Linked DNA regions of Homo sapiens: region 1 is linked to region 2. The links come from fine-mapping of genetic effects on plasma protein levels. A gene starts in region 2. The other region holds a variant in brackets. All regions are shown on one strand. Distances are from middle to middle. Region 1 holds the start of C1R (complement C1r). Region 2 holds the start of C1RL (complement C1r subcomponent like).

Evidence for each region. PIP is the posterior inclusion probability: the model's chance that the variant is causal. Protein levels are from antibody-based Olink assays in UK Biobank. Linkage for the fine-mapping came from a reference panel and not from the study's own genotypes, which makes the PIPs less certain.
Region 1: its variant is fine-mapped to the plasma level of the C1RL protein (UK Biobank, PIP above 0.99).

Annotation. Positions count from the first base shown.
Region 1 is chr12:7,092,440-7,100,440 of GRCh38, forward strand. It overlaps C1R (complement C1r), which reads right to left and starts at 6. Exons shown (of 11, transcript NM_001733.7): 1 at 1-6. It overlaps C1RL (complement C1r subcomponent like), which reads right to left. Exons shown (of 6, transcript NM_016546.4): 4 at 7,462-7,587; 5 at 7,247-7,321; 6 at 2,115-4,724. The coding sequence ends at 3,952. RefSeq lists an enhancer at 54-348. The variant A/G (reference allele first, on the strand shown) is at 4,828.
Region 2 is chr12:7,104,422-7,112,875 of GRCh38, forward strand. It overlaps C1RL (complement C1r subcomponent like), which reads right to left and starts at 4,793. Exons shown (of 6, transcript NM_016546.4): 1 at 4,689-4,793; 2 at 3,830-4,058. The coding sequence starts at 4,759. C1RL-AS1 (C1RL antisense RNA 1) reads left to right here and starts at 3,887. Exons shown (of 12, transcript NR_026947.1): 1 at 3,887-4,060; 2 at 4,252-4,526; 3 at 5,643-5,726; 4 at 5,877-6,151; 5 at 6,604-7,185; 6 at 7,586-7,643. RefSeq lists enhancers at 3,813-5,012, 3,845-4,014, 4,655-4,734.

The DNA.
Region 1 (8,001 bases), 12 kb before region 2:
CTGTGTGCAGAGGGAGCCCGCGTCATGCACAGCAGGGAGGGGAGGGTTTTCTGTGGAGTGGAGGGGGGACCATTCCCGGAGGAATGTTGGAGGGAATGAACTATTTGCATAAACAAAAGATCTGAGTTTCCACTTTAATTTAGTTTTGGTTTTGAAATCCCTGTTTGTGGTGCCACCTGCTGGTCGGTGAGGGAAAGGGCTAAGGAGACGGGAGTCTGGCTTTTTAGGGCCCGGGGAGCCTTGGGTTGGAGGCCCAGATGTCTCAGTCTCTAAATCTGATCAGCTTCTCCCTTCTTCCAAGACTTTCCTGGGGGCTGCTGCTGTGTTTACAAGGTTCCTACCAAAGCAGTGGGAGACCACAGGTGGTGGTGAATTCTCTTTTCTGGGCTGTCCTTTCCCATTGACCCTGTTCTTCCTGCCCTCATTCAGCCCACAGCCCTGGTCCAAGAATGGCCCGGGTTTCAATGCCCAGGACGTAATGATAGGAACACTGGGGCAGAGGAGGGTGTGTGGGAGCGGGCAGAGGAGAGAGGAGCTTGGTTGCCTTGGGGCCCTGGCCTGCTTTAGCCATGAATGACACTTGGACATAGAATAGGGTTGGCCATGTCAGGGCAACCCTAAATCAGCCCTGGGTTTGAGACCCTCTGGGGCGGCTGCGGAGGGGGTAAAATGTCCCCATCTCCTTAGCATCTGCTCAACACAACTGCCAGGGCTGAAGCTAAGGATGCGGGTGTGGAGCAAGAGGGACTCGGTTTTTCTGAGATGAAGCCAGGCCCCTGGGAGGGAGGAGGGACCCTAGTCTCTCCTGTCCATCAGGCCATAGTGTCCTGCTTTAAAACTTTTGCTCTTGGCCACGTGTGGTGGCTCATGCCTGTGATGCCAGCACTTTTCGAGGCCAGGGTGGGAAGATCTCTTGAGCCCAGGAGTTCGAAACCAGCCTGGGCAACATAGTGAGATCTCGTCTCTAAAAGTTAAAATAAATTAAAAAACAATTTCATTGTTTTTGGAAGGCTTTCTTCATCAACTCTCCATGGCACCAAATATCTGATGGCACTTCATCCCACGGAGGGGCTTGGGCTGCAGAGCAGGACTCTGCGTTCTTAAGCCTTTGTAGGCTGTTCTGCTTGTTTCCCTTATTAGATGAATCCCTCCAACCTCCACCCTTCTGCCCCCACCCCCGTTCATCCATTTATGGGCTACCTGTTTAATGTGCAAGACACTTTCCCAGGCAATAGATTGCAAGAATTCACAGAGCTGATGCAGTTCCCCATCAGGCAGTGACCACATCATCAGTAGTTAGACAGCAGGCACACAGAAGGTGCAAGATCCACCAACGCTTGGAGGGTTTCTCCAGCAGGCCTGTGTGTCAGAGCTGAGGACTGAACCTAACGGAGGGCTGGTCTGTGATGGGATCAGCATATGATCCACAGCCTTGTTAGATCAGGAAAGACAAAAGATGGGGGAGAAGGAAAAGCACCAGATCAGAGGACGAGAAGGAAGGGGAATCTCGTCTAACAAACTGCACATTAATATCCTAGCAGCAGTTTGTGTGTGTGTGTGTGTGTGCACGCGCGCATGTGCCGTATGTTCATAATGGAGGCAGAGGGAACAGGTAAGGAGGTAAGTCTTAGCTGAAGCTCTTCCGTCCATCCTAGGGATTCTCAGTTCTGCGTTGGCATTGTGCAACACGCTTGGAGAGCGGCAAACCTGGATGTCATTAGCTCAGTCCCAGCCCTGTCTCCACTCTGCCCAACCATTCAAAATAACCTTTACTCACACATTTTTGTTATGTCCTTGACTTTGTTTTGTCCTTGACTCATACCAAGAAGGAAAAAAATGCCATATGAAATGCTGCTGCGTTTGTTTTAAAACAATTATTGAGGATATAGTCGGTTACAGTGTTTGTTCCTTTAAGGATTTGATTCTTGGGAAAAAGATTTCTCTCTTAAAGTAGTGGTAGGTTTTCCTCTGTGGATATGTCTCTATCGCTAGCTCATCTATCTCCATCATCTCTATCTCTTACCTCCCTCTCTCTCTCATTGTCGATATCTCTATCTCTAGACAGAGACAGCGATGGAGATGTAGAGATATAGATCTAGACATACACATATAAATATAGGTATATATATATTTTTTTGCCTTGGCAGGGAGAAACTCATATCATTTTTTGCAATCATAAAAATAAGCAAAATAAAATAAAAACATTTCATGCTCATTAAACAAATTTTAGCCAATAGAGAATAGTGGAAAACCAAACAGCCAAAATCTTATCAATAAAACCACCTCTGTTTAGTATTTTGAGAGAATTATTATTATATTTTTGGCGATGGGGTTTCACTATGTTGCTTAGGCTGGACTTCAACTCCTGGGCTCAAGCGATCCTCTTGCATCAGCCTCCTGAGTGGCTGGGGGTATAAGTGTGCATCATTGCACCTGCCTTTTGGGAATATTTTTAATAATCTTTTGTACTGTATGTGGGTGTAAAAAACAGAAGTAATCACATGTATGTACAACTTTGAATCCTGCCATTTTTTAGAGATAAATTTAACCTTTGACCATATAGCAACTTGACTCTTGATGCTAACAAATTACCTCTCTTCTCTCTTTTATGGTGTTTATTTTCTATTTCCATTGAACAGTTGTATTTTATTTGTGTCTTTCACTGTAAATCACCTCCAATCTTTTTTTTTTGGGGGGGATGAAGTCTTGGTCTGTCCGCAGGCTGGAGTGCAGTGGCGTGATCTTAGCTCACTGCAACCTCCGCCTCCCAGGTTCAAGTGATTCTCCTGCCTCAGCCTCCCGAGTAGCTGGGACTACAGGCACGTGTCACCACGCCCGGCTAATTTTTGTATTTTTAGTAGAGATGGGGTTTCACCATGTTGGCCAGGATGGGCTGGATCTCCTGACCTCGTGATCCACCCACCTCGGACTCCTAAGGTGTTGGGATTACAGGCGTGAGCCACTGCGCCCGGCCCATCACCTCCAGGTTTTACTAAAAATTAAAGAGTTGGTCCTCTCAGGTGGAGCAGTTCCCCTGATGATAGGGGCACAGGTGGGGTGTCTGCAAGAACTTCAGTCCAGTGCTGGGCTCACCTGGCTTCTGCAGGAGATGGGGCCATTAGGAAAGTGTGAGCTAGAGGATACCATTTTCGCAGAAGCAGGAATTCCCAGGGAGGGAAAATGGTAAGGATGTGGGGGCTGGGAGGGAAAGCGGGTGACACAGCAGGTTAGAGGAGGGTTGAGAAGTATTGCAGCACACTGGGAAGAGCACAGTCTCTGCAGTCACACACCAGCTGTGGGACTTGGGCAAGTCCCTTTATCCCCTGAGCCTCAGTTTCCTCATTTGTCACACATAGATAATAACACATCCTTTGCAAATATGGTATGAGGATTAAGTGAAATAACAGGTGAAGCACCTGGCATATAGAGGACATAAAATAAAAAAGGAGCTGTTTCTATAATTGCATCTTGGAGCTGCAGAATAGCTTGAATATTTGAAGGTCAACTAAAGGGTCTTAGGAATGTTTCAGAAATGCAATGCAATGAAAACCCCTTCCTCCATACTCTAATAGCGGGTGAGTAGCTGACTCTTCCACAGGTGAGTATAAAAGCTGTGTCAACAGATGAAGTAGGGGAAGGCGGTTCTAAGGACATTCAAGGCGAAAGTTGTTGAGATGTACAGGCTTCCCGGGGCCTAGTGCATGAGCACAGGGAGGTAGAGGGTGAGGAGGAGCGGTCTGTGGGACTCTGCTTCCTGTCTGGGATGGGGCGGGCTTGCCGGGTGGGGGTTTCTCTTGCAGTGGCTTGGTGCAACAGTGATGTGAATAGGATTTCCCTGCCTCCCCCAACCCCCCACCCCCAACCCCTACCCCAGTGTTCAGTCCTCACTCCAGGCCCTCTGTTGCCTGGGGCCTCCACTGTGCTGGTCAGTCCCTGTTCAAGCCCCCAGGGTCAATTCTTGCCATTCATCACTCCCTTGATCCAGTCCACATAGCTGAGCACCTTGGTGTAGAAGTCATACCCTTCGCCACACCCTATGCCCCAGGACACAATGCCCGTGGCCACCCAGTGATGGGCATGATTGTCCCATACCACATAGACGCTGCCACTGTCCCCCTGGCAGACACTGTGCCTTTGCGTCTCATCCCCAACACAGAACATATTGTCAGAAAACACCTCGGGTCTCTGTCTCTTTTGGAGCCAGGCGTTGCAGGCCTCCCTGGGAGCTACAGGCAGCCTCGAGTACTTCAGCTCAGTAGTTAGCCAGCCCATCTCCATGCCAAACCCACTGACGTAGCCCAACAAGCCGCTGCGGTAGAGGGTCTCATTATCGGGCAGACAGACCGGGAGGACGTTGGGGCCCAGGGGGATGCTGTGCTGCAGCTCCAGGAGGGCGATGTCCCCGCTAAAGTTATGGGACTCATTCTGACGGTAGTCGGGGTGCACAACGACACGGTGGACAGGGTGGTTCCCCAGTTTCAGCATCTCATCTATGGCTGTGTGGCCCAAGAACACATTCACACTCTGGTTCTTCCTGAGAGAAACACTGTCCTTGGGGTAGATGGTGTGGGCAGCAGTGAGGATCCATCTGTCCCCCAGCAGGGCCCCGCCCCCACGGCCGTGGATACTGGTGAAGGCTTGCCAGGGGAAGTTGCCCAGCTTGGCTCTGGAAGAACCGAGGGTCGTCTGATTCTGGGCAATGGGGGTGACTGGCCGTCCGCAGACTGGGAGAGAGGCGGGGTAGGGGTGACAGTCAGCAGCTGCATCTAGACACACTGATTAAAGACCTGCTTCTCTGAAGTGCTGTGGTAGGGGACGCGTGAAGAG[A/G]CTCTGGGATCAGGACGTTTTTTTTTTTTTTTTGATATCGAGTTTCGCTCTTGTTGCCCAGACTGGAGCGTACTTGCGCGATCTCGGCTCACTGCAACCTCCGCCTCCTGCGCTCAAGCAATTCTGCCTCAGCCTCCCGAGTAGCTGGGATTACAGGCACCGACCACTACGCCCGGCTAATTTTTGTGTATTTTTTAGTAGAGACGGGGTTTCATCATGTGGGCCAGGCTGGTCTGAAACTCCTGACCTCAGTGTTCCACCCGCCTCTGCCTCCCAAAGTGCTGGGATTACAGGCGTGAGGCACCGCGCCTGGCCGGGATCAGGACTCTTATACTGATGCAGACCCACGGTGTAGACCATGTGGGCAGACAAGGACAGGTAATCAATGCCAAGTGTACGGGGCACCCATCCTGCATGGGACTCAGGACAGTGGACTGAGGGTAGGGAGCACAGATGAGCACATGTTTGGGGCTGGTTCTGCAGGGCTCTCCTTCCTGCCTCCTCAGAGGCATTAAAGCCATTCGTTTGGACCATCCTGGGCCCCCATACTACAGGCAGAGTCTGTTTCAGTGCCTCCTGCCTCAGTTTTGTGTCACTTCCTCATTTGTAACATCTCCCACTACCACCTGCCCTCCAAACCATCCCCAAAGCACTGCGAGTGTTCAGGCTACCCTTAGAGTTTTCCGTGGATCAGATTGGGTTAAGAAGGCAATGCTTTCGGCCGGGCGCGGTGGCTCACGCCTGTAATCCCAGCACTCTGGGAGGCCGAGATGGGCGGATCACGAGGTCAGGAGATCGAGACCATCCTGGCTAACCCGGTGAAACCCCGTCTCTACTAAAAAATACAAAAAAAAATTAGCCGGCCGTGGTGGCGGGCGCCTGTAGTCCCAGCTATTCGGGAGGCTGAGGCAGGAGAATGGCTTGAACCCGGGAGGCGGAGCTTGCAGTGAACCGAGATCGCGCCACTGCACTCCAGCCTGGGCGACAGAGCGAGACTCTGTCTCAAAACAAACAAACAAACAAAACAAAAGAAGGCAATGCTTTCATTCAAAAGCGTGGATCTCAAAAATGGTGGGCTTGAACCCTCATGTATTGCCGGTGAGATGTAACTTGGTGCTGCTGCTGTTGAAGACAGTTTGGTGGTTCCTCAAAAAGTTAAACAGAATTATTATACAATCCAGCAAGTCTACTGCTAGGTATATACCCAGGAGATTTAGAAACGTACGTTGATATAAAAACTTGTACACAAATGCTCATAGCAGCATCATTCATAATAGGCAAGAAATAGAGACAACCCAAATGTCCATCAGTTGAATGAATAAACAAAATGGCGTATCCATAGAAAGGAGTATTATTTAGCCATAAAAATGAAATACTGATGGATGCTATAACAGGAATGAACCTTGAAAACATTACGCTAACTGAAAGAAGCCAGACAGAAATGGCCACACATTATATGATTCCACTGATATAAAATCCATAAAGGCAAATCCATAGAGATAGAAGATTAGTGGTTGTCAGGGGAGAGTTGGAGGTACTGGGCTGTTTTGGGGAAGGTAATGGAAATGTTCTGGAATTAGTGGTAATGGTTTCACAACATTGTGAACACACTAAACATTACTGGATTGTACTGTTTAAAGTGGTTAAGGCTGGGCGCAGTGGCCCAAGCCTGTAATCCCAGCACTTTGGGAGGCTGAGGCGGGACGATCACCTGAGGTCAGGAGTTCAAGACCAGCCTGACCAACGTGGTGAAACCCTGTCTCTACTAAAAATACAAAAAAAAAAAAAAAATAAAATAAAATAAAAAAATGAGCTGGGCATAGTGGCAGGTGCCTGTAATCCCAGCTACTCAGGAGGCTGAGGCAGGAGAATCGCTTGAACCCAGGAGATGGAGGTTGCAGTGAACCAAGATTGTGCCGTTGCACTTCAGTCTGGGCGACAAGAGAGAAACTCCATCCCAAAAAAAAAAAAAAAAAAAAAAAAAAAAAGTGAGCCACTGCGCCCAGCCATGAATTTTATCTCAATAATTTTTTTTAAAATGGTTGACTGTCTGGCACTGTGTGGCATCTAGGTAGGGAGATATTTTAGGAATAGAGAGCCTGTCGGTATATCCTTAAAATGTATGGCACAAAAAGAGGGTTTTCTGTTACTTCAGCTTGTTGGTCTCTCTTCCTCCTTTTCTAGTCCATCTCATGAACGTCCTTCATGCTTTTCCTCAGATATATCTTGACCCCTGAAGAATGAGGAACAAGCTCCCTGCCTGTTCTTTTCTGGGCCTTCTTGATTGCCCTGTTCTTCCTCACCTTCTGCTTCTTATCTTCCTTTCTATTCTAAGGCTTTCCTTTAACCCCTGTGTCCTGTAGGTCCCAGTTGCAGCTGAGGCTTGTTGGGGGAATGGTGCTAGCAGGTGGCTACTCACCAGGCATACACTGAAGAACCTCCTCCCCATCCTGTCTGTCTTTCCAGGTCCCTGGGGTTGCACAGGTGAGTGCCCCTGTGGCGTAAATGAGGAGAGGCAAAGAAATAGGCTCGGAGTTGAAGCTGTTGGTTAACGAAGCAGGTGCTCAGAGGGTGTCAGGCATTTGGGTGGGAATGAGGTGGATGGAAGCCACCCCTCGGCAGGTGGGGACTCACCTGCTGCCGCGGCCTGATAATAGGGCTCCTGGCAGTGGTTCTGGACCTTGGCAGGGTTGTCTCCAGGTGCGTTGATGGCCTCAGAGCCCCTGCTGGCCTCGCTGATGGGCTGACTATAGTTCACAGCTATAGGAAAACAGCACCTAGCACAGACTTGCCAACTGGCAACCCAGGGGCTGATTCTGGCCCATGGCTATACTTGGTTTGACTTGCACAGTGTTTTATTTTTTATTTTTAGTTTTTTTAAAACATTTGAGTTCGTTTTCACTGATCAGATTGACAACACTCAAAGAGTTTGAAGATAACTGTGACAAGCAGGGTAGGGGGGAACAGGCACTTCCATATATGTTTGATAGGTATGTAAATTAGCAAAACCGTTTTGGAGAAAATTTTAGCAATATCAAAATTTAAAATGCAAATATTTTTTAACCTACTCCATTTCTAAAAATTTAGTCTAAAGATATTCTCACACATGTGCTCAAAGATGTAAATGCAAGGATATGCACAGTAGCACCATGTGTGGCAGCAAAGTATCTATCA
Region 2 (8,454 bases):
TTGACGAGAAAAAATATTGCCCCGTGTCCGGGGCCACTCTCTGGGTGAAGTCTGCACATTCTTCCCATGTCTTCAGTGGTTTTCTCCAGGTCCTCTGGTTTCCTCCCACATCCCAAGCTGTGCCTGCTAGGCGACCTGGTATGTCTCCACGGTCCCAGTGTGAGTGAGTATGAGTGTGTGAGTGCGTCCTGAAACAGGATGGTGTCCTGTCCAGCACTGGTTCATGCCTTGCATCCTGAACTGCTGCAACAGGCTGTGGCCACCCGTGACCCCAAACTGGAATAATTGGGTAAATAATCTTATTCGTTTTTATTAACCTTTCTTACATGTAGGCATAGTTCACATGTATTTCAATATTTAATATTAGAAGTGTTTGGGGTCTTTATTTAGAGGTTTGGTGATGTTTCTGTGATCAGTAATTGCTGTAGAAACTTCACTCTTGTCTATATCAATTAGCTCTATGGCCAAATTGGTTTCATTCTATGTTATTTCTCTTAAAGTCATACTTTCCAAGAACCTATGGATGATTTTAAGTGAGGACTCACTGTACCAAAAACAGAAGGATTAAGTGAAAGTCTACCTGCCAAACAGTGAGCTGCATCTCCCTCCACCAGGCCCTTTTCTCAGCTTGTTGACCAGAATGCTGGGGTCCCTGAGCTGGAATCTGCAGGAGTCCTCTCAGGGGAAACTGGCTGCCCCCAAATAAAATGCTTTTACATCCTGACAGTTGGGAGGCCCCCAGTGGCACATCTAGGTCACCTTGTCGATAACCCTATTTTCAAACCTATCATTTGACAAATTTTAGCTATCCACACAGAACTTCCAATCAGTATTTTAGTGCTCCACTCTTTTTTTTTTTTCCTTGAGACAGAGACTCACTCTGCACCCCACAGGCTGTAGTGCAGTGGCCTGATCTCGGCTTACTACAACCTCCACCTCCCAGGTTCAAGCGATTCTTATGCCTCAGCCTCCCAAGTAGCTGGGATTACAGGCGTACACCACCATGCCTGCCTAATTTTTGTATTTTTAGTAGAGACGGGGTTTCACCATGTTGGCCAGGCTGGTCTCAAACTCCTGGCCTCAGGTGATCTGCCTGCCTCGGCCTCCCAAAGTGCTGGGATTACAGATGTGAGCCACTGCGCCCGGCCTTAAATATGAATGGACAGCCAAGTATTATCAGATATCGTAGGAAAGTCTCTAACACAAAAAGCAGAGACCAAAACAGACAAACGGTAAAAAAGAACTTGGATGAAATAGACCCACTATAGAGAACAGAAGAAACATCTAAAAATAATCCCAAAGGAGGGAAAGGAGTTGATACTGCATCAATGAAACAAGAACAATACTCTATAAAAAGGCACATTTAGAAAATTAGAACGAATCCTTAGAAATGAAATAATATGTCAGTGGAAAGAAACCATTAACTAAAAGATGGGGATTTAAAGATGAGAAAATTTCCCAGGAGGCAGAACAAAAGAGATGGTAAATAGAACAAAACAGATAACAAAGCTAGAGAATCAATCTAGAACATACAACAGCTGAATTATAGGAGAAAGAGAAACTAAGGAAATGAGATATCTGGAAATTATTTAAAAAATAGCACAAGAACATTCCTAGAATTGAAGGACTAGATTAAAAGAGGCTCTAGATTAAAAGAAATCTGCACAATGAGTAAAAAACCACGTGTATCAAGAGACATCATAATGAAAGTCCAGAATACTGGTAATAAGGAAAATATTCCAAAAGTTCTAGAGAGAGAAAACAAAGGATTAGGAATGATAAGGGCATCAAACTTCTTAACAAAGTCTAGACCTAGAAGACAATATCATCAAAATTCTGGAAGAAAAAGGTTTCCAATCTAGAATGCTATACCCAGATCAACTATCCCTCCACTGTGAGGGTAGAACTGAGACATTTAGACATATATAAGATCTTCTAAAATTCACTCTAAAATACCCTTTCTAAGGAAGCCACTGGTGAAGGTGCTCCTCCAAAATGGGAGAGTAAACCAAAAAAGAGAAAGGTATGGGATTCAGGTTCAGCACAGGTAAAGGAAATCCCCAGAAAGAGGGAGAAGAGAACTCCCAGAATGTGTGACGGCTTAGAGAGCAAAGAACTCAGGCTGTGAAAATAAATCGAGAGATCTTCAGGAGGGATGTCACCAATTAAAAGGAGGACCGATAGACTGAAATTCATGCTTGAGTATTTCAGAAGAAGATTTACACTCCTGGTTAAGAGTCTGGTGAGATTAGTTACAGAGACAACTAAGCAAACTAAAAAGCAAAACAAAAACAAACACCCCCCACCAAAAAACAAAACAAAACAAAACAAAAAAACTCCATGTAACTATTGACTCCTAGGAAACCCAAAAGTTGGAGAAGAAAAGAAATATAATTATTTTATGCTATGTGCTCAGATGTGAATATTTTACAGTCATAATAATGTAAATAATGAATAAAGATTTAACTAAAAATGATAATATAGGTAAACTGGCAGAATGAGGAGGGGAAATGTGGGTGGTGAAGACTGAAGACAGATAAAGCTAGTCCTTATCTTCTATACTGTAGTTGAGCATTAATAGAAAATACGTAAAAATGAAAGACAAATAAGCATGTTATTTATACATATGAAGTTAAAGACCAGATGAAACAGCTACATGAATTGGCAAATGACTGCTCCTGAGGAGCAGCACTCAGGGGCGGGGAGGAACAGCTTGGAGACTGCTGTTATTCATAAACCTTTTTAAAAACCTTTTTTTTTTTTTGGAGACAGGGTCTCACTCTGTCACCCAGGCTGGAGTACGGTGTCATGATCAGAGCTCACTGCAGCCTCTACCTTCCAGGCTCAAGTGATCCTCTCACTTCAGCGTCCCTTGTAGCTGGGACCACAGGTGCGTGCCACCACACTTGGCTAATTTTTAAATTTTTTTGTAGAGATGGGGTCTTGCTATGTTGCCCAGGCTGGTCTCAAATTCCTGGGCTCAAGTGCTTCTTTCGCCTCAGCCTCCCAAAGTGCTGGGACTACAGACATGAGCTACTGCGCCCAGCCTTAGAAAACTTTAATTAAAAAACAAAAAGTCTTACAACTATTATGTATCCATAATAATTAAAAATTTTAAAATTAAAAAATAAAGTTCAAAAATTTATGTCATTTTGATATAAATAAAATTTAAATCAAAAGATAATGTGCTCTTTTTATTTTTATTTATTATTTACTTATTTTTGAGATGGGGTCTTGCTATGTTGCTTAGGCTGGCCTTGAACCCTGGGCTCCAGCCCTCTGATCCTCCAGCCTCAGTCTCCTGACTATACTGCTGGGACTGCAAGCTTGCATCACTCCATCAAGTACTGTTTTTAAAATGTCCTTATTCTGAATAAGGCTTTGGCGTTAGAAGTTTTGTAATAGCTCTTCCAAGGTAAGTGTGAACGGTGACTTAATCTTTTGTTATTATTTGTGTCCAGCTTCCTCACCTGATAGAGCAGGCACTCAACAAATACATGATGACATATTTTTAACAACCAATATGTGCGTCCCTGCCCCTGGCTCCATAGATTTGCAAGATTTGTGTGTCCATTCATAAGCCTTCCAAACGCAGGGCCTGCTTGCTGCCCTCTTTGCTCTGTGGGGCCCAGATGGCAGCCCCGGAGGCGCTGGTGGGAGGCTGTGTCCTGGGGTCCACCACTGCTCCCCGGTAAGCCAAGCCCGACTGCCCCTACATGGAAAATTCATCCCTCCTCCAGATGGGGGATTCAGGGCACCGCCACTTCCCACAACCCCGGGAATCTCCCTGGCCACAGTCCTGGCGGGACCCCCCCCATCCCCAGCTCACTGTGACAGAGTCCCCTGCACAGTCCTGGGACGGCTCCAGGTCGAAGTCCTGGAAGACGAGCCTCACAGCAAAGCCCTCTGGAGCCTTGATGTCCGTGCTGCTCTCTTGGCCTTTGCCATACGGCTCTGGGTACCCGGGGGATGTCAGCTGCTGGGGTAGCTCTTGGGCCAAGAGGACGGAGCCCCGGGTTGGGCAAGCCTGGAGGACTCCCCAGAGAAGCAGCCACCACCTGTGAGTTGGGGGGAGGGCAAGGTGGGGCCGCGCAGCTATGGCCGGAAGCCTGTGGGTGTGGGAGGAGCGGGGGAGCCGCGCTAGGACTCAGAGGCCTCGCGAGGCAGGGCTAGAAGCTGTGGCCTCACCCTTGAGGCCCGGGCACTTCCCGTCTCCTCCCTTGCTCCCCTTCCTCACCCCAATCCCTACAGCCTCCCGCGCAGCCTGAGCTCTAGGATTGTGGGTTTTCCATCCTCCGAAGACATCACCTTTGCTCATCTCCCAGGAGAGTCTCGTCCAAAGGAGGGGGGTGCTTTCTGCTTCAGCAGATCCCACCCCACCCTGGGATCCGAGGGAGCAATGGTGGGGCGAGTGAGGGTCTGCCGTAAATATCCCCCGACCACCCTCTGGGAAGGTGCTAGAGGCCACAGGCAAATTTCAGTCTCCCCATGGAATATCTGCTGTGCTGCTGCTGCTGCTGCTGCTGGTGTGTGTATGTGGGGGAGGTGTGTGTGTGTGTGTGTGTGTGGGGGGGGGGGGGATGTGTGTGTGGGGGGGGTAGGGTGGGGGGAGGGAGGGTTTGCGGCCACCCACCCTTTCTCTTCCCCTCCCGTCCTCTTCCCTCCTCCTCTGCCGGGGCCACACTCACATTGCGCCTGGACAGCCTTTGGAGTGAGGGCTTCTCCAGAGATATTTCCCCCACACTCTGGGTCCAGGCATCTGGAACTGGACATCTGGGACCTGCGAGAGAACTGGCCCAGGATAGGGAACAAAAGGTGAAGGCCGGTGGGGGAGGAGGAAGTTCCTGGAAATGTTAAGCAACTCCACAGTTCCCCTTCTCCAATTCTCCGGGCTGAGCGCCACCTGCCGTCTGACTCAGGAACAGCGGGCCCGCCGCAGCTTAGGGGAGAAACGTCCAAAAACCTCGCTGGCCCTCAGAGGTCAGGGTGGCAGGGCACTGACTCGACCCTTTTGTACTATTTAACATTAATTTTTGCCATGTGTGTAGGATGGCTCCTTGTGAGTTATGGCTGCTGCCTTCAATCAGCCATGTCTCTTCCTCCCCGACCTTTCCGTTCACGACATACCCGGGGAGCCTCCCTCTTGTAGAATTGAAGTTTGTGATCCTTGAACTTGAGCTTTCTCTTCCTTTCCCTCCTCCCCAAGCAGGGGTGGGGGACATGCGCTTAGGTGGTCTTTTGAATCCTATTCACAACCTCTGGAGGCTGCTTGTCCAGCATGGTCAGGGCTGGGGTCGAGCCCAGGTGTCCCTCAGTCCCTAGTCCCAGTCATCACTCAAGCCGTCACTCAAGCTTCTTTAGGCAGATACTAGAGCCCCTGCCTGCTCTCACCGCTCCCCGAGGAAGGACACTCACCCACAGCTTGGTAGGAGGCCAGAAGGCTCTTATGGAGATGGGTGGTCCCATCCTCAGAGAAGGCAGGTGTGTGGAAGGCCTTACGTTGTATGCACACACAAATGCATGTGCGCGCGCACACACACCTCTCAGAGAAGAATCTATTGCTTCCCCCATTTTGCATATAGTAATATGGAGGCAAGTTACAGACCCAAACAGGGTGTGCTCTGCATCTTTGGTTTTTCTAGGCTAGAGAGATTTAGGAGAGCCACAGTCTATGGCTACAAGGAGATGATAAGAGAGTGATGGCCAGGACAGATGCAATGTCTCAGGTACAGTCTTGAGATCAAGCCTACCTGTCTGCCACACCCCAACCCCAAACACAACTGGGGATGATCTCCCATACCCATCTTCGAGGAGTGGGCCTCTCTGACTAGGACTTCTTTCCTCCCCTGAGACCACTGAAACCTGCTCTCTCATAGAACTCTTAGGGTCACCTGGAGCACCTTGGGAGCCAGAGATGCAGCCAAAGAGTGAACAATGGTACCAATCCCAAGACCCATGTGTTAAGAAGAAACCAGCCAAGACTCAGATCAGGATTGGGGAGTCCACCCCTCGTTTCCCTTCAGAGCATTATTTCCTTGTTTGCTAAGAGGGGCAGGAACTGGAAAACTCAGGCTAGCCCATCTGAGAAGACTTTCCTGGAGATGAGCTGGAGGAGGGAGGAGTAAGGCCTTGGAAGGAAACTCCAGGACAGGTAGGGTGACCGACTGTTCTGATTTGCGTGGGACCGACGGGTTTCCCAGGACATGAGGCTTTCCGTTTTAAAATGAGGGAAGTTCTGGGCAAGCCAGGACTGGTGGTCACCCTAAATGGATAGGGGTTAAAGTGCTGGAGTGAGGCTGGGTGAGAAAGAGGACAGGGAGCCAAGAGGGTGGGGAGGCAGTGATGCACCGGCAGCCCCAGGTGACTGGGCAGTCCAGGGTCTGGATGTGGTCCCTGTTTGGGGTAATCCAGCACTCTGAAGATGAGGGCCCACCTTGGTCTCACCTAGGTGGCGTGTGCGGCTGCAGCATGAGTTAGGGTCAAGGGCAAGGGGAGGAATGGCTGGTGATGTGAGACTGGAGAAGGAGCTGATGGCTCTGTGCATAGCTGGTCACTGCAGGCCCCTGTGGGCTAGGGCTGAGCTGTGCCCCGCTGTGTTTTCAGCACCACCTCCCCTACACTGGGACCTCGTCTCTAACTGGCAGAGTGGTCAATGAAAAAAAGGGCATGCCTTGGCACATCATGGTCAAACTGCTAAAAGCCAAAGACAAGAGAAAATCTTTTCTTTTTTTTAATCCCATCCTAAAGACTAGACAGAACAATATTTTCAATGTCACTCTTTTCTCATCAAAACCAATATAGACCAGAAGACAGTGGAATATCTCTAAAATGCTGAAGGAAAAAAAAAGTCAACTCAGAATTGTTTTTCTAGTGAAAGTATTCTTCCAGAATGAAGATGAAATAAAGCTATTTTCAGATAAAAGAAAACAGAGATTCTTGTCGCCAGCAGACCTCCACTATGAGAAGCGCTAAAGAAAGTTCTTTAGGACGGGCACGATAGCTCACGCCTATAATCCCAGCATTTTGGGAGGCCAAGGTGGGAGGATTGCTTGAGCTCGGAAGATGGAGGCTGCAGTGAGCCATGACGGTGCCACTGCACTCCAGCTTGGGTGACAGAGTGAGACGCTGTCTCAAATTGGAAGAGCAGAGCTGCAGACAGGAATAAGAAGAACGGTAAATTTGAAGGTAAATATAAAATACGATTTTCTTTTTAATGTCTTTAAAATATGTAGAACTGTTCCAGGCAAAAATTATAACATTGTATTGTGAGGTTTATAACATATGTAGCTGTAACATATATGAAGACTGTAGTATAAAGCAGGGGTCCCCAACCCCTGAGCCGTGGACCAGTATTGGAGGTGAGTGGTGGTGAGCAAGCAAAGCTTCATCTGTATTTGTAGCTGCTTCCCATCACTCACATTACCATCTGAACTTCGTCTTCTGTCAGCAGCAGCAGCAGCAGCAGCATTAGATTCTCATAGGGGCACGAACCCTATTGTGAACTATGCATGGAGGGATCTAGGCTGTGTGCTCCTTATGAGAATCTAATGCCTGGTGACCTGTCACTGTCTCCTATCACCCCTAGATGGGACCGTCTAGTTGCAAGAAAACAAGCTCAGGGCTCCCACTGATTCTACATTACGGTGAGTTGTATAATTATTAATATTTCATTATATATTACAATAACAATAATAATAGAAAGAAAACATGCAATGAATGTAATGTGTTTGAACTATCCTGAAACCATCTCCCTCTGGCCCCATCCCTGGTTTGTGGAAAAACCGTTTTCCATGAAGCCAGTCCCTTGTGCCAAAAAGGGTGGGGACTGCTGGTATAGAGGACAAGGGGGTGGACTCATGGTTACAAGTTTCCTTCATTTCACATGAAGTGGTACAATAGGAACTGAGAAAACTGGAGTTTAGGATGCAGACTAATTCCCAGAGCAGCGGGTCTCCACCCTGTGGTGTGGGAAGACCCACAGGCCCTAAGATCCTTTCACGGGGTCTGTGAGGTAACAAAATGACTTTCATAAAAATACTCAGATGTTCTTTGCTTTTTTCCCTCTCATTCTGTCATGGTATATGGTGGATTTACAGAGGCTACGTGATGTGCAATGATTCATCCGTGGCAGTGAGCGGGATGCGTGCTTGTGTATCTTTGTGATTTAAAATGTTCTCAATTTTGATTTCTAGTACAGTGACTATTAATAGATATACCCTACATAAGCCAAAGCTCTCTGGAGTTCTCAATAATTTTTTAAGGGTATAAAGTTTGAGAACAGTTGCCCTAGGGTGACTACTAGTAGAAAAAAGCAAAGAAGTATAGCTGAAAGGCCGATGTAGAAATGAAAATGGATGTCTGAATTTGGGGGGACTTTTTTCTAATAGGGTAACCTATTAGAAATCATCCTGGTCTGTCTAGAAATGAGGTTTTCCTAGGACATGAGGTTTTCAA